Linked DNA regions of Homo sapiens: region 1 is linked to region 2. Evidence: fine-mapped expression QTL. A gene starts in region 2. The other region holds a variant in brackets. All regions are shown on one strand. Distances are between the middles of the regions. Region 1 overlaps AK4 (adenylate kinase 4). Region 2 holds the start of AK4 (adenylate kinase 4).

What was found. PIP is the estimated chance that this variant, and not a neighbour inherited with it, causes the effect.
Region 1: its variant is fine-mapped to the expression of AK4 in whole blood (INTERVAL, PIP 0.91).

What each region holds. Positions count from the first base shown.
Region 1 is chr1:65,172,113-65,184,200 of GRCh38, forward strand. All of the region lies in intron 1 of AK4 (adenylate kinase 4), which reads left to right. Among named protein-coding and RNA genes, the nearest start is that of AK4, 30 kb to the left of the region's middle. The variant T/C (reference allele first, on the strand shown) is at 6,391.
Region 2 is chr1:65,142,042-65,154,129 of GRCh38, forward strand. It overlaps AK4 (adenylate kinase 4), which reads left to right and starts at 6,162. Exons shown (of 5, transcript NM_013410.4): 1 at 6,162-6,511. The coding sequence starts at 6,367. RefSeq lists silencers at 5,329-5,568, 5,579-6,078, 6,459-6,758, 6,819-7,098 and enhancers at 6,692-7,410, 7,411-8,129, 9,720-9,769, 11,483-11,984.

The DNA of each region.
Region 1 (12,088 bases), 30 kb after region 2:
ATTACACTTCCCAAATATATATATATTTGGAATGAGTTTAAAACGTAAGCTTTACGTTTTTTAAAACGTAACTTTTGTTTGTTGACTGATGCCAGACGTTGCTGCCTTGGTGAAGTAGCTCTACTGCACCAAGTTAAAAAAGTTAATCGTCTTTAAAGACTGTAGGTATCTTCTGGTTTAGTGTTAAATAAAAAGAAAAAAGGGAGGGGAGATTCTTGTCTCGAATATGTCACCTTCTTTGTACCAGTTTTTAGAGAGCAGCTGTGGCAGCTGCTGAATTATATATGCCTGCTTTGTTTTCCTCCTTTTATTTGGCGGTGGAGAAAGTGTGACAATTTTAAAGTGACTCTAAAATTAGTATATCTGGTGGAGCATTCAATTTCATGAATGTGCTGTTTGGAATAGCAGTATGGAATCAAATAAGATGCAGAGACTTGGGTATAGAATAAGCTTACGAATGGAAATCAGGGGCCTGATGCACTACAGGCGGTTTGATTTATGACGGAAACATCCTCAGATATCCAGGAACTCATATATTGGAATAGAGACAACTGTGGGAATAGATTGTCCTACCCAGAAAGCAAAATCTGGCAGAGTTTGAGGTTTCTTATTGGGTAATTTTATCAGCTCGTTCTTAGATTAATTAGTAGAATAAGACTTCCAGAGTTGCAAGATGAAATGCGATGCTTTCTTCTCTTCTTCTTCGCTATTTCTACTTCTGGGCCATCTTGGCCAGCAAGAGATTTTTTTTTTTTTTTTTTTTTTTTTGATACGAACTCTCGCTCTGTTGCCCAGGCTGGAGTGCAATGACATGATCTGTGCTCACTGCAACCTCCACTTTCCGAGTTCAAGCGATTCTCCTGTCTCAACCTCTCAGGTAGCTGGGATTGCAGGCATGTGCCACCAAGCCTGGCTAATTTTCTGCATTTTTAGTGGAGACAGGGTTTCACCACGTTGGCTAGGCTGGTCTTGAATGCCTGACCTCAAGTGATCCACCTGACTTGGCCTCCCAAAGTGCTGGGATTGCAGGCGTGAGTCACTGCGCCCGGCCTAGCAAGAGATTTTTGAACCACAAGTCTTGGTCGTCAGTATTGAATCATTATGGTGTGTGGCATGGTAGTGGCTGCACCATGTTGGAGTAAATGTGTTCTCATGGTGGGGGATATTAGTGACCCTGGGTAACAGTCCATGGCACTTGGCTTGCACCACAGAGTTAACATACAGCAGATCAGCTGTCCCTGTCCTCCAGCTTTATATACCGAATTAGAAAGACTTGGGCCCTCATCCTTTACTCAGTGGCTTCCCGGCACTCCACACCACATCTCTAATACTGGGTATTTTCTCTGGTCACCTCTTCCTCAGATTGCATACTTCCCTGTAATTTTTCACTTCTGCGTTTCAGTCTTTCCTTGGAAAGGCTGCCCTTTCTGTATGACTTCATCCCATGTTGGACCCGACCCTCCTTCTTTCCTTCTCCCAAAGCACTACTCATACCTGTAATCCCAGCACTGTGGGAGGCCAAGGTGGGCAGATCGCTTGTGCTCAGGAGTTCGAGCCTGGGCGGCATGGTGGAACCTCATCTCTACAAAATACAAAAATAATTAGCCAGGCGTGGTAGCGCACGCCTGTAGCCACAGCTGCTTAGGAGACTGAGGTGGCAGGATCCCCTAAACCCGGGAAGCTGAGGATGCAGTGAGGCATAATTGTGCCACTGTACTCCAGTCTGGGTGACAAAGGGAGACCCTGTCTCAAAAAAAAAAAAATAGACTACTTAGCTGAGGTGGTTGTATTAAGGTTTGGGGTGATGGGGATTAGAGTCTGGCACAAGGAAGTTGACATGGCATGTTAGACACCGGTGTCCTAAAAACCTATCAGCCATTCCCCACACACCCCTTCAGCCACTGCCTGCCCCTCCCCTGGCTTAGGTTCAGCTCACTGATTTCTTGCTCTTTTCCCTTCTGGAGAGTCTGCTCTTTTTCTGTTCCTCAGCTTTCAATCCTCCAATACCAGAAGGATTTGGCTTTCTAATCCAGAATAGTTTCCCTCTTCACCCTCAACCCCCCAAATAAACCCTAGCCTTACCTTTATTGATCCAAAAACTCATTAGTTTTTCCTGAATGAAGGGCCCAGAGCAAAGCATAGGCAGATGTTTTGACACTCTAGTTGTTTTTTTTTTAACCTGATTAAATTTTTAGATGAAGTTTATTTTCCCCCAAGTCTCTCTAAGAATACAAGGAACTCGTTTTCTTAATTCAGAGACTGAGTTTTCTTAATTTTCTTTCTTAAATTCAGAGACCGAATTTCCCTTTGGCAAAGACAGATCCTCGAGTGTCAGGACTTATTATTATTTTTTTCTTGGCTACAATTTGCCTTCTTTTTTCTTTTAACATACCTCATTTACTCACTTAATTTAAAAAATACTGTTGGGATCCTTTGCTCCCTGAGCCTTTGTTTAAGTCACTGAGCTCAACAAGACCTGCCCTTGAGGTGTTCTCAGTTCACAAGGGGAAAGGGGAAAGGGACAGATGGTTGAACAAAGAATTACGGTGTGAGAGAAATTGCTTGAGGAAGTGAGCAAAGGCTTTGGACACAGGGTCTAGGGAGCTACTTGCTGTAGGGCATGTGTTAAGAGTTCAGGCTTTGGAACCACATTGACTGGGAAGCCAGCCAGGCAAGTTACTCAAACACTTTCTATTTCTTCAACCACAAACCAAGAATAATAATGGTACTACTTCATACGGTTGTTGTAAGAATTAATTGAGATAATACGTACAAGGGAGTATAGAAAGACTTGACCCAATATTTGCTTATTTATTTTTTCTTTTTAAAATTTTTATGGATATCTATTTTTAATGTGCTCCATGGTAGGAATTAGCTTAATCCTGCAATTAAGTGAAACACATTTTAAGAATGTATAATATTTTCTCTTTTTGTGTGCCACTTTTTATTTTAAACAACCAAAATAGTGGTCATGACCTTCATTTGACAACCCCTGGTCCAGTACTTCCTAAGTGTTTCATTACTGTTGCCACTGGTATCGTTGTTCTTGCTGGCTGTTGAAGGATGATTGTGTGTTGGCCCGCTCAGTGGACTGCTTGTCCTTGCTGATTGCTGAGGAGGTCCTGTCAGAAGAGTGTCCGCATCAGCTCTCCCTGTTCCCGTTTCCCTTCCGGAGGTTGCTGAGCAGCACACATTTTTGGAGCCCTTGCTGTAGTTCTCCAACAGGGCATTGCCAGAGTTACTACAGAGAGAGAGAGGGAAGACTCTCATGGGCAGCAGTAGCAATCCATCCTGTGTGAGCAGATGGCACTGGAGAATAGCAGCCTTGCTTCTGCTGAGCTGCAGCCAAGATCCTGTTCAGAGAGGCAGCCAACAAGGTGCATGGCACAGCCGGATAGATTCACACTCTGGGCCTTGTGCAATGGCAAGGAATTACTATTTGTGTTGCTTTAAAAGTGACATTCCTCCTTATCCTCTGAATGCGTCTAGTACTTGGGCTGTGCTCAGGTTACAGGGAGGCTGTTCTATGGTTTTTACAGAGTAAGAAAATCCAGAGGGCCCCTGAGATTTCCAATGTAATCCTACTCTGTAGGGCTGAAAGTGCCTGCTATGGTGGATACCAAGGCAGATTTCCAGAACATGAGCTTGAGGAGACGGTTAAACATTCTGGGTTTAAAACTCTTCTGTGATTTTGGCAAATCTTTCAGATTACTTGCCGTTTTCCTATTTGCTCCCTTGCCCAACTTCTGTTGCATTCATCCCAATCTGCTTTTCTCCTCCGCTGCTTATATAAAGCCGCGTGTGGTATTACACCAGATGTTCATGGTGTGTTTATGAATGCATGTGTTCCTATCCCGGGCCAAGAAAATACACTTGACATAGGACGTCCAAAATTTTTTGGCTTATGAAGCTCCAGTATCTTTTACTTTCACTACTTATTTAATTTTAAAAGAAGGTTACTGTACTGTTTTATTCTTTGAATAAATATGAAGGGTGAAATAATAATTGATCTGCTGGCGGAATGAGAAAGCCTAAGGAGGAAGAATTGTCTGGATATCCTTTGTGCTTAGAGATTGGATCACCTTCTTTTTCAGTAATGCCAGCCCCTCCCCTACCCAAAGTCATGGCTGTTGTCCATGCATCTTTTTATCTTGGCTATTATAGAAGCATACCCACTGCCAACACATTTCTGGACCCTGGGTACAAAATTAGACTAAGTGAATATAAATATCCAGTCTGGCTAGAGAGAAAAGAGTGAAGAGGCCTCATGAAGCATTGGCCCTTATTCTCAGGAAGCGTTCTAGGGAAAGTATGGTAGAAAGAACACTAAATGATGATTCAGGCCTGAGTTCCCATCCCGACTCCACCTCTCACGTTTAGAACGGGCATAATGATCAGTTGATTTCGCTGCCCGTGAATGCCGGGAGACTCTCCTTAGTCTGTAAAGTCCCCTCCTCACCACAGAGATGGAACCTCTGTGGTTTAAGGAAAGCTGGTGTGGGGAGGCTAGTCCTCTACCCTTCACACAAGCCTCCAAATGCAGGGAGTTGAAGTGCCACCACAGAGATAGCAGAGGTCGAACGGTCTACCTCTCTCTTGCAGATGAGGAAACTTGAGGCCACGATAAGTGAAATACATTGCTGTGTTGAGAGTCCTGTGGGCAGTGAGCTGAAAGCAGAACAAAGAGCTGGGACTCCTGATTCCCAGCCTGGCAGTAGTAGTTCCTGGTGTCATATTTGCCATTGCCTCAGTATGAAGCCATTCCAGTATTTCAGTGTTTTTAAAAAGGTATTGTCCCTTGATAAAATGCAGATGTCAGGAAATAAATCACATTACAAATTCTTTCATTTTTAATCTCACAATTAGTGATTAAGAGATGCATATTTGTACTTTCGAGCTCAAATCTAGGTTAAATAATTTTTCATTTTACTATTAATCTGCTTTTGACTTAGGTGATAATCGATTGTGCAGATCACAGATTTGAGTAATGTTGGCTACAACTTCCTTTGGTTGAAGACCAACAATAATTGCCGCTATCATGAGCTAAATATTGCAGACTAAATGACAAAGGAAAGGTATTGAAGACGGGTGTATTCCATATGAGGTCTCTTTTTCCCTCAGAGACCAGTGACTAATATGCCACGAGCATATTAGTCTAATATCCAAAGGAACAAAAATGAGTAGGATTATAGTCTTTACAGTTTCAAAGTTTTAAAAATTATATTAAATAAGTTATAAACCTGTCTTTGTTGTCTTCTTTAGGAATAGCTTACAAATCCCTGCTGGCTTGGGATTTATTAGGACACTTTTAGGGTAAAATTTATCTGTGTCACACAGACACCCAGAGGAGATGGCACAAAGAGAAGCAGTTGAGTTTTGTTGGTGAAGCCTTGTACAACCTTCCTTGAGGTGACTTCCGCGTACCTATATGTTAAAAACGGTAAATTGTTTCCTTAATGCTAAACTTCCTGCTGCTTCTGTCAGAGAATACTTTGGAATCCTAATCTCAGAAATCTTTCAGAGTTGACTCATGCATTTTGTGGGTGTTTAAGAATGTCAGATAGCTTCAGGAGGAGCAAGCATCCACTTGTTGGGAACAGACCCTTCCTTGTTAAGAGATCAGGCTTGGGATCCAAACACAACCTGTGGTAATGATCTTTCTGCACCAATTTGTGTAGACTGAAGCAACGGTTGTGAGAACCAAGGGCAACATGCACCAAATGTCCACTTATGTAGTCTAATCAGGTAAGAGAATGCTTTGCTTAATTCAGTAATTTTCCTCAGTTATTCAAGGCTTGCCAAAGAATCAGACTATAAGATAGCATTTAAAAAAAAAAAACATTGCTGCACATGATGTTTCATTTGTTGAGAAGGGTTTTCTGAGTCTTAATTGCCTGAAAGTCATGACCGTGGCTGTCAGGGGTGAACGATACAAAAAGTAAGGTATGGTAAAGGGTGTAATGAGAAGTTCATCTAATAATTTGTAGGGTCCTGTGGATGGGAAGGTGGAAGAGTTCAAAGGTATGATAATTCTTCATCTCAAGTAGAGTGGCTCTTGCTTGACTGTTAAGATAGCCTCTGGCCTCAAGGGGATTATAATCTGCTCTGGAGGATTTGTAAACAATGTCTGTTCCACTGGAGGAGTGAAATGTCAGGTAAAGGTACAAGGCCACTGCATATGATTGTACAAATCGTGGCCTGTTGAGGGGAACCTGGCTAAGGGGTGTGTGAGGCCTGTAGTCCAACCCTGGTTCTGCCCACCGAGCTGTGTTCTCCGGCACACGGCTGAGTCTGCCTGGAGAAATGAGCATCTTGAAATGTGTGCATAGCCACAATGTGTTTACTCAGCTGGGGGCCCACAGGGCTGCCTCTTCCCAAAGGGAACACCTC[T/C]GTAGTACAGACACCGAATGAACTAACTTTAGCCCATGTGCTGGTAGATTACAGAAGGGGGGATTAACTCTCAAGGTAAGATAGGAGAAAAATGATCAGGGAAAGCTTCTTAGAGGAACACACAAACTGAAGGGTGTTTCTTCCAGCCAACATTTGCTAGCCCTTCAGAAGCCCAACTCCAGTGTGGGAAGCTTCTTTTGGACCTGAGGTCAGATTGGGGTGTCCACCTCTGTCTTCTGTTCCGTCTTTCCTCCACGAGTCTGTAGATTGCGGGAGGGTAGGAACCACAGTCGCACTTGACTCTGTGCCTGGCACAGACAAGGGGTCAAAGGATGAATGATAAGGAAATGAGGGTGGGAGGTGAGGTTGAGAAGTAGTTTCCAGCTAGATCAGAGAGACCTTGAATGCTATCCTAAGGAGTATTCATCCATGCCATCCTACAAGCCAAGGAACACACTGTGGTGTCAGCAAGGGAGCGACTTGTGCCACCTTGTGTTTTTGGAAGGTCTATCTTGGAGTTGTGTCTAGGATGGATTGGGGGAGGGAGAGGGTCTGGGAGAGAGGAAAGGAAGCTGACTGGTGAGGAGATATGGAATTAAAGGATGCTTATAATTTGGTAGGAAACAGCCACATAGAAACTGAGTTTTTAGTTAGTTAGATACAGTACCTAAAGGAAGCACTGGTTATACAGAGCAGGACCAGGTATTTCCTTACAGTCAGCAGCTCGGTTCTTTAGTAAGAACCTGTCCCTTTTATACAGGTGCTAGTGTCATATTTCAGCAGCATGTATGCTAACATGCAAAGTTGTTTCTGTTCAAGAAAATGCTCACAAACATTGAGAGGCAGTGTGTAGTGGTTAAGAAAATGGACTGGGGCCAACTTGCTTGAAGTTGAGTCTGGGCTGTATGACTTATTAACTCAGTTACTTTGGGCAAGTTACTTAATCTCTCTGTGTTTCAATTTCCTTATCTAAGAAATAGGGAATATTATACCCTAGACTTCATAGATATTTGTGAGCATTTGATGAGTTCATGTATATAAACTTTCTAGAATCGGCCAGGTGTGGTGGCTCATGCCTGTAATCCCGGCACTTTGGGAGGCCCGGGCAGGAGGATCCCTTGAACTCAAGAGTTTGAGACCAACGTGGGTAACATGATGAGACCCCCATCTCTACAAAGAAAAATTAGCCAGGCATGGTGGCATGTGCCTGTAGTCTCAGCTACTCTGGAGGCTGAGGCGGGAGAATCGCTTGAGTCTGGGAGGTCAAGTGTGCAGTGAGCTGTGATCACACCACTGCACTTCAGCCTCGGTGACAAAGTGAGACCCTGTCTCCAAAACAAAAAGAAAAAAGAAATGGTCTAGAACAACCCTTGGCACATAGACACAAATACTTAGTATCTCCATGTTCTTGAATGAAATTTGCAAAGCAGCATCATTCCAAGACCTTTATACATATGTTAATCACATGCAACTTTCAAAACAACCCTAAGTGATATTATTCCCATTTTATTGGTGAGGAAACGGAGGCACAAACTTGACTGAGGCAAAGACATACGTGACAAAAGTCTTATAGCCTTTAAGTGGTGCCAGGATTTGAACTCAGGCAGTCTGGCTCTAAAGCGTATGTACTTGACCAATTATACTGGATTCAGAATTTTCTTTGGGCCAGGTGCTGGGGCTCATGTCTGTAATCCCACCACTTTGGGAGGCTGAGGAAGGAGGATCACTTGAGGTCAGAAGTTCGAGACCAGCCTGGGCAACATGGTAAAACCCCGTGTCTACTAAAAATGCAACAATTAGCTGGGCATGGTGGCATGCACCTGTGTTCCCAGCTACTTAGGAGGCTGAGGTGTTTTCTTCATAGTTACCCATAGCAAGTGTCAGAGAGTGATTTAAAACTGTATTTTTGGTATGAAGGAAAAGAAAGTCAAGCTTTGAACAAATACCAATTGAAAGGTGGATACTGGATGTCTGAAATGAGTCACTTAAGTGCCAAAATGCCTTAAATTTAAGAGTTTCTTCCATGATTTCTGCCTCTAAAGGACTTTGACATCTATTTTTTTAACCAAGGTTTTTTATTTTTTAAAGCTTATTTTCTTACTGGAAGAGATTCAGCAGAGTGATATTAGGGATAACTTATAGAATGAAGTCTTTCTTCACTGTATTTTTTCCCCCAAAGTAGTTATTTCTACTTCAGTGCCAAAATATTCTTACAAGTGGGGAGATAAAGAACTTGCAGCTTGAAGAATTATAAAGCTCTACAGTTCATCTTTGACCAGGCCCCTTGAGATGCGTGTATGTGTGTGCGCAGGTGCGCACACACGTGTGCACTGCCATTATTAGTGATGTTTTGGCGAAGGGATGATACCAGGGTGAGCAAGGCTTCTCCTAGTTCTGTCCCATACATGCAGTCTGATACTTCAGGGTAGAGTGGTCTTACAAGGGAATTGAGCTCATTTACAGGAATCTTACTCTCAGCATTTTCTGTAGAACAATGAAAAGAACATTGAGTAATTATCTCTTTCTGGTGACTTAGCCAGGCATCTTGGGAATTTGCTGTTTTGTGAACATTCGTTCAGCTCTGTCTTGTATATCTAGTTTGCCTTCACTTTATAGACAGTCACAACAAAAAGAGGATACAGATGTGTGGGTGTGTGGGTGCTAGAAACAATAACAATTTTGTATCTCCCACCCAGCCTAAGAAACAGAGTGTTATCAGTACCCCATAGCTCCTTTTTCCATCTCTCTCCTCCAGCACTATCCTGCATCTTGTAATGATTCTCTTGCTTTACCATATACTTTTGTATATGCATGTAGCCATCAACATTATATTGTATAATTGTGTCTGTGTTAGACTTTTTCATAAACCAGCAGGCTCCTAAGCTGTAGAATTAAGCCTTTTTTTTTTTTTTGAGACAGAGTCTCGCTCTGTTGCCCAGACTGGAATGCAATGGCGCTATCTCAGCTCACTGCTACCTCCGCCTCCCAGGTTCAAGGCCTCAGCCTCCCAAGTAGCTGGGACTACAGGCATGTGCCACCATGCCTGGCTAATTTTGGTATTTTTAGCAGAGACGGGGATTCGCCATTGTTGGCCAGGCTGGTCTCAAACTCCTGACCTCAAGTGATCTGCCTGTCTTGGCCTCCCAAAGTGCTGGGATTACAAGTGTGAGTCACAGTGCCCGGCCAGAATTAAGCTTTTATTATTTTTATTTTTGGGTTGTGCCAGTAAATGATAGGAAGCCATTCTTATAACTTGACGTTGTTTTGATAGGCCAAGTTGTCATCTGTTTGATGTCACCTGGCCAAGCAATCTGAAGAAGATCACAGATGACTTCTGATGCCCCCTCCCTTTGTGGTTTCTCTGACACTTAGGGAAATGTGCCACAGCCTGGCACAGAGTAGTTGCTCAGTAAATTTTTTATTTTTTAGAGGCAGGAGTGCCTCTCTCTGTTGCCCAGGCTGGAGTGCAGTGGCGCAGTCATAGCTTGCTGCACCCTGGAACTCCTGGGCTCAAGTGATCCTCCCACTTCAATCTCCAGAGTCGCTGGGACTACAGGTGTGTGCCACCACGCCTGACTAATTTTACATTTTTTATAGAGATGGGGTCTTGTTATTAATATGTTGCCCCAGTTGGTCTCAAACTCCTGGCCTCAAGGGATCATCCCATCTTGACCTCTCAAAGTGTTGGGATTACTGGTGTGAGCTACAACACTCAGTTCAAGGGTACGATGTTTGTATCTTTAGTGCCTTGTGTGGTACCTGGTACATAGACTTGCAGAAAATTTTGGTTGGAGAAGTGGTGTGTTCAGAGAATTTTCAGCTGTGGTTCTGAGTGATTGGAGTGGCTTTGGAATCGAGGTGATGATCTGGGGTGAAACAGGAGTAGCTCTCTCATAGGTTACTGCACAGCTGACTTCTGGCATGTACTTTTCCTTTCCTGTGTCACAAAACACACTTTTCATTGTCCTTATGCTGGCCCCACCTGCGTTACTTATTGAAAAAAGTATATGACAGACAGAAATAAGACATTCAGATAAAAAAAAAAAGACCTCATTTGCCTTTGCTTAAAGTATTAGTAGTTGAGATTTGATCCTGAGAGACTTTCATTCCAGTTGATGGATTTTACCTAACTAAAGTCAATTATTTTGAGGTGTTAATCACCACTTTTATTAAAACAAATCTTTTTGTCTCCAGCGTCAAGAAACTAAGGTAACCTGGTTGGCTTTCTGTAACCCTGGACTAGTATTTTAGAGATAATCTCTTCAATAGTGAAAGGTGGATTGGCTGGCAGATTCATTGTTTGACTAAACGCTTTCATTTAGCTTGTGACCTATAGCCTATTCCTCTTTCATAGTGTATTTATGTAGAACTTTATTGGCAGTGTAAGAGCCTCTATATCTTAATTGTGATAACTACTGACTGTTTAATTTTCTGCCTGACACAGAGTAAAATTCCATGAACTTTTGCTATTGAAAGCTTTTGGTGGATTAGTACCCAATCCCAGTGTTTAAGACTCTGAGCTCTGGAACAGGCCTCATGCTAGATTGATATAGGGCCTGGCACATAGATGCTTAATAAATATTAGCTGAATGAGTATTTTGTGGATTTAAAGAGTATTCAAACCACAAAACTAACCATACCCTATATTGTCAGAGGGAACAGTGTACCTTTTTTTTTCTTCCCATTTCAGGACCAAAATCAGCCTTTTGTATTTTGGATCTTTACATATTTATTTATTTTTTCTTTCCTTTGTTTTATTTTGTTTTGAGTCAGAGTCTTGCTCTGTCGCCCAAGCTGGAGTGAAGTGGCGTTATCTTGGCTCATTGCAACCTCTGCCTCCTGGGTTCAAGTGATTCTCATGCCTCAGCCTCCAGGGTAGCTGGGACTGCAGGTGCACACCATCACGCCCAGCTAATTTTTTGTATTTTTGGGGGTTTTGCCATGTTGGCCAGTCTGGTCTTGAACTCCTGAGCTTGGGCAACCCACCCAACCTTGGCCTCCCAAAGCGCTGGGATTACAGGCGTGAGCCACTGTTCCCGGCCAATATTTCTTTCTTTTTGAGAGTCATTCAGTCCCTGCAGTGTTTATGCTGACTGTCCTGCATATTTAGGGTTGCTGTAGAATGGATTTTGTGCTATATAAATATCCGTGTGTGTGTGTGTGTGTGTGTGTGTGTGTGTGTGTGTGTGTGTATGTATGTGTCTGTGTTCTCATGGTTTTTCTAAAGAAATGTCATCTGCTTATTGGCTCTTCTACTTACAGGTCTTTTCTTTTTAACCAGCCTTAAGATGATGCAGAATGTGAGTCCAACATCCTACTCCTTCAGCAGTTGACAGTGTTTTGGCATATGTGCTGCCCTGAATACAGTGATCTATTTCAGTCTGTTGATATAAATGTGGACAGCTTTAATGTGTAGGAATTGAGGCTAACAAAATATCTTTCCATATCCTGGAAGCATGAATTTTGGAGAGATGACCAACTTAATAGATAGTCTTAAGTTTTGTGTTATCGTATAATTTTAAATGCGGTATTATCTTAATGCACAGTTTAATAGTCTTAAATCCTGAAAATTTGTATATTATCTGATCTAGTTAGAAATTGAAAATATATATTTCTCAAGGTTACCAAGATTATATCTATTTGAATTTAGTAGTGATTGAATGGAATAGGTTGTTAAGATGAATTGCCACAAAATTTA
Region 2 (12,088 bases):
CTGTTAAGATGTTACAGGTTAATAACCATGTGGGCTGGTAAAATTGGGGCTAAGATGATTCTTTCACTTGTAAGAATGTATGAGGTCACACATAATACCATGTTAGTCCTTTATACACCATTTATTCTTCTTTCAGCAAAATCTTTTGGCTTTTTGAGTATTTATTGAGTGCCTACAGAGAGAAAGGAACAGCACATGCTGGGACAGGTATCTTATTACTCCTTCCCATTATTTTCTTTTCTGAATCTTTGCACATATAAGCCACTAGCCTTTCTGTTGTCTTTCCAGAGATGCTTCACAGAAGACAAAGAGAGACATAACTCTATCCACTCATTCATGCAGCAGTCCGTCTTTTAACAATGTTTGCTTAATATTCACCATGTGCTGCATTTTTACTAAGCTGCGTGGAAACCATGGTAAAAAAGATGAAGCCACTATGTTAAAGGAGCATACAGTCTTCATCAAATACAACAGAAATAAACATGAAATTGTGATACATGACAATGATGGAGAGATGTGGTAGCTGGAACAATGGGGGTTTGAATTTAGAGGTGAGGTCAGTGTCGTGCCTGTGAACTGTGGTTCGGGTGATATTTTTAATCATAGCATTACAAAAATCTGGTGAGTCATATTAAATTAAGTTTCAAAGGTATACTTCGAGGTACATTAGATTATGTGCAATGTATTACCGATAGTGGAGGAGATAGTTTGATGTGGTACTAGAAATTATTCAAAGTGGTACGTGGTCTGAGGCCCAGCATGGTGGCTCACACCTCTAATCACAGCCCTTTGGGAGTCCCAGGCGGGTGGAGTAGCTTGCACTCAGGAGTTCCAGGCCAGCCTGGGCAACATGGCAAGACCCCCGTCTCTACTAAAAATACAAAAAATAAAAAATAAAAAAAAATTGCTGGGTGTGGTGGCACACGCCTGTAGTCCCAGGTACTCGAGAGGCTGAGGTGGGAGGATTGCCTGAGCCTGGGAGGCAGATGCTGCAGTGAGCCAAAATCACCCCACTGCACTCCAGCCTGAGTGACAGAGCAAGACTCCATATATAAAAAAAATTAAACTGAATATTAGAAAGTACTCCCTGTCTTATTTTCAGCCATGTGATTTCAGTTAAGCAGAGTCTCATGTAGATGCTGTATGTCTTAAACACCTTTTAACACTTGGTAAACAAACTCTCCGACCCTCATCCCACCCTGCTTGGCTCTGTTTTTTTTGTTTTTTGTTTTTTGTTTTTGTTTTTTTTTTATTTAGACAAAGATTAAGCTCAGAAAATCAACAGGTGGTAGATTCCAGCTGGTATTTGGTATCTTATTTGATTTTTCTTGTATTTATTTCAGTGTATCCTTTTACTTATGGTTAGTGAGTTATTATTATATAAAATTTCTTTTTCAAATTTATTTATTTATTTATTTATTTATTTATTTATTTATTTATTTTTGAGACAGAGTCTCACTTTGCCACCCAGGCTAGAGTGCAGTGGCGCGATCTTGGCTCACTGCAACCTCCGCCTCTTGGGTTCAAGGGATTCTCCTGCCTCAGCCTCCTGAGTAGCTGGGATTACAGGCTTGCGCCACAACGCCCAGCTAATTTTTGTATTTTTAATAGAGATGGGGTTTCACCATGTTGGCCAAGCTGGTTTTAAACTCCGGACCTCCATCCGCCTTGGCCTCTCAAAGCGCTGAGATTACAGGAATGAGCCACTGCACTCAGCCTCAGATCAATTATTTAAACAAACTCAGTCAATATAAAAAAAATTAAAAAAACATGATAAGCAAATAACAGCCAAGGTGGTACAATGTTATGGCAAAACTGTAAAAATAGTGTGGAAATAATTGAAGTTTAGAGGAACAAGAGCACTGTGCTCAGAATGAGGAAATCTGATTTGAGGTCCGGCTCCCTTTGTACTATCGTCCCAGGCAGGCAATGCTGCATGGTACTGAGTGTGTTATGAGGGATAGAGACTTGCCAACATTAACAGATTATTACAAAGGGTATATGTTTGAGTACAGAAACCTCAGACTTTATAGTGTTAGAGGGGAGACAAAAACATAAATAGTTGTGTAATAACTCAAAGACTGTGATAAGTATTACAAATGGGTTAAAAACCCTAGACAAAGGAAATAGGAAGAAGTTAATTACCTGAGTGTATGTATATGATAAGAATGGCTATCATTAGGCTGGGCACGGTGGCTCACACCTGTAATCCCAGCACTTTGGGAGGCCGAGGCGGGCGGATCACAAGGTCAGGAGATCGAGACCATCCTGGCTAACACGGTGAAACCCCGTCTCTACTAAAAAAATACAAAAGATTAGCCAGGCGTGGTGGCAGGTGCCTGTAGTCCCAGCTACTCAAGAGGCTGAGGCAGGAGAATGGCGTGAACCCAGGAGGCGGAGCTTGCAGTGAGCTGAGATCGTGCCACTGTATTCCAGCCTGGGCGACAGAGCAAGACTCCATCTCAAAAAAAAAAAAAAAAAAAAAGTGCCAGGGAACTGACTAGGTGCTTTGTTGTATTATCTCATTTATTTCTCACCATTCAGGAACTGGGTTTAGAGAGGCTAAATAATTGACCCATGATTAATACTGGTGATGATGATGTTTACGACTGAATACTTATTGTATGCCCAGCCCTGTACTGAGTCCTTTATATACATGATCTCCATTTAAGCTTCACCACAAGACTCTGAGGTATTATTTTCCTTTTACAGATAAACTAAGGCTCACAGAGATCATGAAATTTGCAGTTAGTGAATGGTGCTGTTGCAATTTGATCTCAGGTGTGTTGGACTCCAAAGTCTGTTTCTTCATCTTCTGCTTCACTTCCAAGTCAGCAGCAGCTGAGCTGAGGGACCATGAGATGGCCATGCACTGGGATGGTCCATTGAGGGCTCTTTTGTGAAATGCGAGGTTCCAATCTTGGTTTCTCTAATGTGTGTCACAACTCTTTGTTTAATAATTTATACTCCTAAAAGCATAAAGTCCTAGAATCATGTGGGTGGCTAGCACTGTTCCATGACACTATAAGGTAATGTTGGTAAAGACATTTCAAAAGTAGACAAAAGAACTAGGTGGTAGGGTAAGGTAGGGCTATAGGATAGCTAGTCTGTGCGGGCTAAAAGCCATATTTCCTGTGGAAAGTTACAGTCAATTCTTAATAGATATGAAGGAATCTTCAGGATGTACTAAATCCAACCTCCTCATTTTACAAAGTAGAGGTTAAGGGCCAAAGGTCATACATTGGCAGAGGAATCAGGACACCACACATCTTGTGTCTCAATGCTCTGTTCACTATGGCAGTGGTTTTCAAGGTGTGGTCTCCAGATCAGCAACCTCAGCATCACCTGGGAACTTGATGGAAATGCCCACCTTCAATCCACTGAATCAGATTCTGTGTGTCAGGCCTCTAGCCCAAGCTAAGCCATCATATCCCCTGTGACCTGCACGTATACATCCAGATGGCCTGAAGCAACTGAAGATCCACAAAAGTGAAAATAGCCTTAACTGATGACATTCCACCACTGTGATTTGTTTCTGCCCCACCCTAACTGATCAATGTACTTTGTAATTCTCCTTACCCTTGAGAATGTACTTTGTGAGATCCACCCGCTGCCCGCAAAACACTGCTCCTAACTCCACCGCCTATCCGAAAATCTATAAGAACTAATGATAATCCCACCACCCTTTCCTGACTCTCTTTTCGGACTCAGCCCGCCGGCACCCAGGTAAAATAAACAGCCTTATTGCTCACACAAAGCCTGTTTGGTGGTCTCTTCACATGGACGTGCGTGGCACTATGCAGGGGGAGCTCAGCAACACGTTTCAACATGCCTTCCAGGTGATTCTGATGCATGCTCACTTCTGAGAGCCACTCCAAAGAAGTATCTGCTACATATTATACACATATACCCCCACCCCCAGACCCGCAAGTTCTTCCTCTTTGTTCCCAGAAAAGGTTTGAAGGGGCTCAGTATCAGGTCTACAGCACACTGAGATTTATTTATTTATTTATTTATTTATCATTTATTTGAGACAGAGTCTCGCCCTGTTTCCGAGGCTGGAGTGCAGTGGCGTGATCTCAGCTCACTGCAACCTCCACCTCCCAGGTTCAAGTGATTCTCTTGCCTCAGCCTCTGGAGTAGTTGGGATTACAGGCGTGCACCACCACACCTGGCTAATCATTCTATTTTTAGTAGAGACGGAGTTTCACCATGTTAGACAGGCTGGTCTCATACTCCTGGCCTCAAGTGATCCGTCTGCCTTGGCCTCCCAAAGTGCTGGGATTACGGGTGTGAGCCACAGCGCCCGGCCACACTGAGACATTTTAGAGGGAGATCAGTCTATGGAACAAATGCTGGCCTGGGGCTGGTGGCCTGGGTGTGCTGTCTGGCCAATTTTGTGCGTGGAGTAAGCAGTGGGGAGAGGCGCTGGGTGTCAGGAAACTATGCCAGGCCCTGCCCTCCACCAACCCCAATCAAAGAGCTGAGAGGGGGTTCTTCTCCACACCATCCCACTACTTGTGTCCCTCACCTTCTCTGAGTCCTGGGTATTGGTGCTGGGAACTCTGCAACAGATTTCCTGAAGGCAGGTGGCCTGTGGAAGGAAGGCAGAGGAGGGGGCCTGCAGAATGCAAAGGTGTACGGAAGGCATCTCTGCGCCCCTGCTGAAGATTTTTCACTTTATCCTGAAGGGAAGACAATATCTGAGGCCGGGAAATAATAAATATTGATTTTCACTTTATCAGTATTCCTGGCAGCTGCACGGAAAATGGAATGGCACAGAAACTGGAGTCTTATGGGCACTTATCCCACTAGTTGGGGTGGGAAATTAAAGGCTGTGTGTAAGGTGGGCACAGATCTAACAGAATGTGGATTGGGATATGCAGGGGAGGGTGGAGTGGGGGAAGACAGACTCCATTTGGACTTGGTGAGTTATAGGTGCAGCACCAGCATAATGCGCATGGAAGTCCTGGAATCATTTACCAAGAAGGTCCTGAACACAGGTGAGGGACATCCCCTTCTTCCCTGTTCCCTAAGGCGCCTAGACTTTGGAGTCAGTCAGTCTTGGGTTCCAGCCTCCCGCTAGGACGCAATTTCTTGAGAGCAGGATTCGATCTGTTGTTCACGGCTAGATCCTAAGCGCCTAGAATAGTTTCTGGCACACAGTAGGCACTCAATAAACATTTGCAGAATGAATCAATGAATGAATGGTCACGCTCCATTCCTCGGCTGTAAACACAATGAAATCACCTAGCCGCAAACTTGGCGCACAGTAGGCGCTCAACAAGTTGTATTTTTCCCTTCCCTTGCAGTAGACCGCGGTCCCCAGGCGACCGCGAAAGAAAAAAAGGGGTTTCTCTACCTCGCGTGGTCTGCACCTCGCTTCGCCCCCGCAGCCCTCGCTGGGTCGCAGGGAGCACGTGGGCCAGGCAGGCTGGGTGGGAGTGGAGTGGAGTGGAGGGGAGGGGGCGGCGGCCAGCGGCTCGCGCGGAGCCGGTCTCCCGGGCTTACGTAAGGCGCGAGTCCCGCGCGGCCGGCCGGGGCTCCGCGACTGGGCGGGCGGAGGCGGCGCCGCCCTGCAGGATCCGGGCTGGAAGCCTCTCGGAGTGCTGCCTCCAGCCAAGGTGTGTGTTTATTTGATTGCTTTTGGTGGCGAGGCGCGGGGCTCGGGCTCGTCGCGCGCCCCATGGCCGGGGAGCGCATCCGCCAACCCCGGGCGGAGGTGGGCCCCTCCGAGCGCGCGCGGGCGGCGGGCAGCGGCGGCAGCTGAGACTCCGGGGGATGTGACAGCCGCCGGGGAGGGGACGAGACGCAGACCACACGTTGCCCACGTGCGAGGACCGGGCAGGGGCTCAGCCCCTAGGCCGCCCGGTGCGTGGGGCGGCGGGGGCTGGCTTTGAGTCACCCCCGCTTGTGCCAGCTTCCCCGGCTCGGCGGAGACTGGCTTGGGGATGCCTGGCCGCCCGGCCCCCTTCTCGGACGCGGCGTGGGGAGCGAGCTGGAGTTAAGGATGAAGGTGGGACTGGCCGGGCCGACCTCTGACCCCTGGAGGCCGAGTCGGCAGGGCGGGGCACGGCGCGCTTCAGCAGCTTTGCGTGGGGGCGAGGAGGTGGAGGAGGGCGAGGAGGTGGAGAAGGGCGGGGAGGTGTAGCGTGGCGCTCAGTCCGCCTGCTACTCGGTCCCGGCGCTGGGCTGAGGGGAGGGGTTGTCTTAAAAGTCTCTCCTTCCCCCTGTAGGGGCGGCCGGCGAGTCCCAGTGAGAGCGGAGGGTGCCAGAGGTAGGGGGCCGAGAAACAAAGTTCCCGGGGCTTCCTCCGGGGCCGCGGTCGGGGCTGCGCGTTTGACCGCCCCCCTCCTCGCGAAGGCAATGGCTTCCAAACTCCTGCGCGCGGTCATCCTCGGGCCGCCCGGCTCGGGCAAGGGCACCGTGTGCCAGAGGATCGCCCAGAACTTTGGTCTCCAGCATCTCTCCAGCGGCCACTTCTTGCGGGAGAACATCAAGGCCAGCACCGGTGAGGGGCTGCGGGGACGAGGGCCGGGGGCGAGCCGCGTTGGGCTGGGGTGAGGCCCTGGAGGGACTGGGGCTCCCGGATCACGGCGCCCTTCCCCCGCCCGCGTGTGGTCGTGCAGGCTCGTACGTGCCGGGGCGCATGCAGCTGGCGGCCGCGCGGCTTAACCGCGCCTGGGGAGGAGGCCGAGGCTCCAGGGGCGGCCGGTGGGAGGTGCCCACGGCTCCTCTCCACCGCTCCTCCTGTCGCGAGGAATAGCCCGAGCCACCCGGCCGAGGGAACGAGAACTAGGCAGGGAAAACCCGGAGCTTCCGTCTCACGCTGCCCTCCTTAAGGCAGAGCCGTCCCCGTACCCCTTAGCCCTGGCCCCCTCCCCCGAGTCCCTAGAGAGCCGCGCGCCCCCTCCCGCGGGAGCCCAGAGGCGGAGCGCCGCCCACCTGTGGCAGTCGGGCGGGGCCGCGCGCCGGGGAACCTGTGGCGCCGGGGGGCTCGCAGCCTCGCGCCTCTCCAGCCCCTCCACGCAGCCTCGGGCCTCGGGGCAGAGCCCTGGGTGGCTTTGAAAGGCCTGTCTGTTCGTTGTCGCCTTCTAAGGTAAACTCTCCCCAGCAACTCCCCCCCCTCCCGAAGCCGCCGGGCCTGGCCGTCAGGAGACTCGGAGGAGACTCGTTCTGATAAATTACATTTTGTAATGCAGCTTTCCTGGAAATGGCTTCTTGAGCTGCCTCCCTTGGCATGAGATGCCTCCTTTGGCTGGCGTGGTGAACTTGGGGATATATAGATCGCCTGATTTCTTAGTCTGACGGGGTTGAGTGCGTCCCTTTCCCCCTCTCCTCCCACTCCACGTTCACACCAGTTCCGAAAGAATTGGCGTTAAAAGGCGAGAGGTAGCGGTTGTGCTGCTGCGAGGCTCTTAACCCTTCTGGGATGGAGATGCTGGTAATTAGCAACTCCTTTATGAAAAGTTGTTCTTCCCAGCAGGGGTCCTTTACTGTCGATGTACTTCTCAAGGATGTCCGGGCTGGTTATTGCCCATCATGGACTAATTATCCGGAGATCTGCATTTCAGAAGCACAGACTGGCTTGAAAAGGAAGGTGGAGGACAGTACCAGAAAACAAAAGGAAAGCTTAAAAGCAAGGAATTAAGAAGTATCTCCAGAATTGTATTCCTTATCTCTTAAGCAGATTGAAAAAGCGGACTTTTACAGGAAACTCTTCCCCCACCCCCATGTCTCAAAAGGAAGAATTATGTGTACCAGATTGCACTTGAGTTTTCTGTTGTGGGTATTGTTACCTCAAGTGCGCCTATTTTGATTTTAATACATTCACATGCATTTTATTCTTGAAATGCTGCGGTTTGAGGGGAGAGCGGCCTGAGGGGGAAGGCTGGCTCTCATCCTAATGGTTTTGTGTTTAGGTTGGGCTTCTTCATGGTAGGGGCATGGAGTCAGTGAAGGAAGACAGTGAGAAGAGATGAGCCCATTCCATAATTCTCTGTACCTGACTAGGAGACTTGTTTCCTTCTATGAGCCCATTCCATAATTCTCTGTACCTTACTTGGTGACTTGTTTCCTTCTGGAATGAAGGGCTTCACACTGTCCATCCTGGGACTGGACTCATAGCCCTTTCCATGTTTAAAGAGAGTGTGATGGGAAGTAGCTTATTTCTGCACTTTCTTAGGGGCTTTGAAAATTTTCCATTTGCTCTTTTCCCTTGTTCTCTCTTTCTCTCTCTCTCTCTTTTTTTTTTTTAACTTTCCTGTGTTCTAAATTTTAGTTTTCATTCTCTTTCAAATGCCTTCATTTCCTCCCCAGTGATCCTCCCTGGAGTGAGAAATGACTATGAAATGTTTAGATTTTCTTTTTTCTGTTGGGAATCAAGCAGCTTTTTGCATGAGCCAATTAAAAAAAAAACTTTATCAAAGAAAGAAGAAAAATAAAGGACAGCAATTTGTTTTGAAAGTGGCTTGTTTCTAGTGAACTTTCGGGTTATCGGATTATTTTTCCCTCTCAGAAGGTCTGAGAATCTTATAGGCTTACTGCCTGGTAAATAAAACATTCCTTTCCACGGTATTTATTTTTCTGTCTGTTACCTGCTGTTTGCTTTTAGCTGATTTCCTGGTGGGAAACACAACCACCCTTCTGTATGTACCCTTTATAATGGAAGGTTTGAAGGAGACGATGAAGCACAACAAAAACCCAGGAAATAGAACCGTGTAGGAATTTGAATTGGAAAGTAGCTCCGGCCATCTGCTCCAGCCTGGATTTGGGCACACTCTTGTCTACATGGCTTTCCTCCTCCTGCAGCCTGGTGAAAAGCTGCTCTTTCAGGAAAGGGCCATTCTGATGTCATTGCTTCTTGGAAGTCTTCCCTCACCTGCTCTGGCAGAATTCATCTCTTTCCTCTGCACATAACTTTTTTTTTTTGAGACGAGTCTCGTTCTGTCACCCACACCGGAGTTCAGTGGCGCTATCTCGGCTCGCTGCAACCTCTGCCTCCCGGGTTCAAGCGATTCTCTTGCTTCAGCCTCCCAAGTAGCTGGGATTACAGGCGTCTGCCACCACGCCCGGCTAATTTTTGTATTTTTCGTAGAGATAGGGTTTCACCATCTCTACGAAGGTTCGAGGTCAGGCTGGTCGCGAACTCGGGACCTTAGATGATCCACCCGTCTTGGCCTCCCAAAGTGCTGGGATTACAAATGTGAGCCACCGCACCTGACCTCCTCTCCTCTGCACATGTCTTATTGATTCTAATGTTGCAGTCATATATCATGCAGTGTAAAAATGCCTGTCTCACACCCAGTAAGATATCTGCTGAGTGGCTGCTGTGCGTCAATGTTCTAGGTGCTGGGGGCAATAGCATTAAGATAATCTTGTGCCTCTTTTATTATTATTTATAGATAGGGGTTTTGCTTTAGTGCCCAGGCTGGTCTCAAACTCTTGGCTCAGTCTCCCAAAATGTTGGGATTACAGGTGTGAGCCACTGCACCTGGCCCATTCTTGGGCCTTTTGTTCTTTCTGCCTATACCATTGTACAATTTCCACTCTGAAACTTGGAGGACAGGGATCAGGCAAAGTACCTAATGTATAAAAGGAGCTTACCGAGTCTGTATTAAAGGCCTGGGTCACAAATTCTAGACAGTACATCTTAGTCCAGAAGTCAAGCAACCTATAGCATAGAGACCATTTTGTTTAATTAGCTCTGATTTATGGTAAAAGTTTGTGCTTAATATGGATCTGAGATTAGCTTCATGGTAGCTGTCACCCATTGGCCCTTCCTACACTGCCTAGAGTGGTACAGGCTGAGGCTTATCAGATACCTCATTTGAAGAGTCACACCCATATCTTTGGCTCAGATTTTCTTTAGCACACTGCAAGAGTAAATAGAAGGGAGAGTTCTCTTAGATTGCCAGGAGTTGGGTCTTACCCTCTGTTGTAAGAAATATTAGCTTTTCTCTGTGTATGTATGGGTATGCACATGTATGTATGAGTATACACACACACACAGGGACTGGCACTCTATTGAGTGAGTCCTACTACAAACTCTGAACAAATTCTGATATTTAATGATAGATTCTTTTATTGGGTCATATCTAAAGGATATGCAAATCCTGTTTTAAAGGTTGGAGAAATAGTGGTATTTTTTAAAACCACATTATACTGGATCTACTATCTCAAGTGCAGGAAAACTGGCACATCTCCATTTGGAAGCATCTTGGAGTTAATTGAGATAAAAGATGTTAAGGAACAAACCTGTTTCTGCACTTGCTATCTCTCTCTCTCTCTCTCTCTCTCTCTCTCTCTCTCTCTCTCTCTATATATATATATATATATATATATTTTTTTTTTTTTTTTTTTTTTTTTTTTTTTTTTTTGAGCCGGAGTCTCACTCTGTCACCCAGGCCGGAGTGCAGTGGCACAGTCTCGGCTCACTGCAGCCTCCGCCTCCCAGGTTCAAGCGATTCTTCTGCCTCAGCCTCCCGAGTAGCTGGGACTACAGGCACACACCACCACGTGTGGCTATTTTTGTATTTTTGGTGGAGATGGGGTTTCACCATTTGGCCAGGCTGGTCTTGAACTCCTGACCTCATGATCTGCCTGCCTCGGCCTCCCAAAGTGCTGGGATTACAGGCGTGAGCCACCGCACCTGGCCTCTGCTTCTCAATATTAACTGCAGCTCTTGCTGGAGTTTTGCTGATGGGACTAGCATTTCAAGTTAGTCTATGGGCCCAGCCTCTTTTTGAAAAGATGGCCTAGTTCAGAGGGCTCAGGGTTCTTTTTGGTGCTCATTAAGTATAAATGTGTGTCTTATGTAAGAGGGAAAACTTCTGAGAACTGGAAGATAGAAACATTGTATTAGAGAGACTTGGGAGCCAGAGTTCAACAATGTATCTAAAACAGGTTTCAATAGTTATCCTTTTTATAGATCATACAGAGTCTTGGCTTATTACAGGGTTTCTAGAGTATGTTCTATTCCATTTCCCCCCCTAGCTGGGTGAGACTCAGGATGTAGCACAGGTCAAGCAAGGGTCTGACTGGTTTTGAGACCTCTCCAGTCCAAAGGTCCACTCCATATCCACTTATTGTTGCTTTTTTGGTTTCTTTGAGGATTTTCACACATATTTGAAGAACACTATTTGTGACTTGAATAAGGCATTCCATGACAGTAAGTCTGCCTTAGCCACATGTACATCTGAATCTTTGCACATTCTTCCAGTGGGATTTTTTTTCTTCTTCTTTTTGAGACATAGTTTCACTCTGTGACCTAGGCTGGAGTGCAGTGGCATGAACACGGCTTACTGTGGCCTTGATTTCCCGGGCTCAAGTGATTGTCTTACCTCAGCCCCTTAAGTAGCTGGGGCTACAGGCATGCACCACCATGCCCGGATAATTTCGTATTTTTTTGGTAGAGTTAGGGTTTCTACGTGTTGCCCAGGCTGGTCTTGAACCCCTTAGTTCAGGCAGTCTGCCCGCCTCGGCCTCCCAAAATGCTGAGATTACAGGTGTGAGTCACCATGCCTGGCCAGGATCATTTTTTAGAAGTAGTTTTTTCTGATCAAAGTCATGCCTTGTACAAAATTTAGAAAATATAAAACGGTAGAAGAAATGAAAGCAGCAAGTAAAAGTTACCCTTAATTCCTTAAGGGTAATTTAAGCAAATAAATTAAAGGTGACTGTCTTAGGTTGTGTGATTAGGGAAGGCCTCTCCAGGAGGTGAATGTCCTCATTCATACCGTAAACAATGAGCTTGTGATGATTAGGAACAGGTTGTTCCAGGAAGAAGGAACAGCAAGTGCAAAGGCCCTAAGGTGGGAATTAGCATAGCGTGTCTGAGGAACAGAAAGAAGTGGCAGTATGTTTGGAGCCTAGCAAGTAGAAGGGATGTGGAAGTAGGTCAGGTCAGAGAGACGAGCAGGTGCCAGATCAGGTAGAGCCTGGGGGATCCTGGTAAGGATTGGATTTTATTCCAAGGGCACTGGAAAGCCAAGGAAGGGTTTTCCATAGGACAATGACATGAAAAGATTTACTTTCTAAAAGTTGATCTTTTGCCTGCTGTGTGGAGAGGTGACTCAGGTGAGCAAGA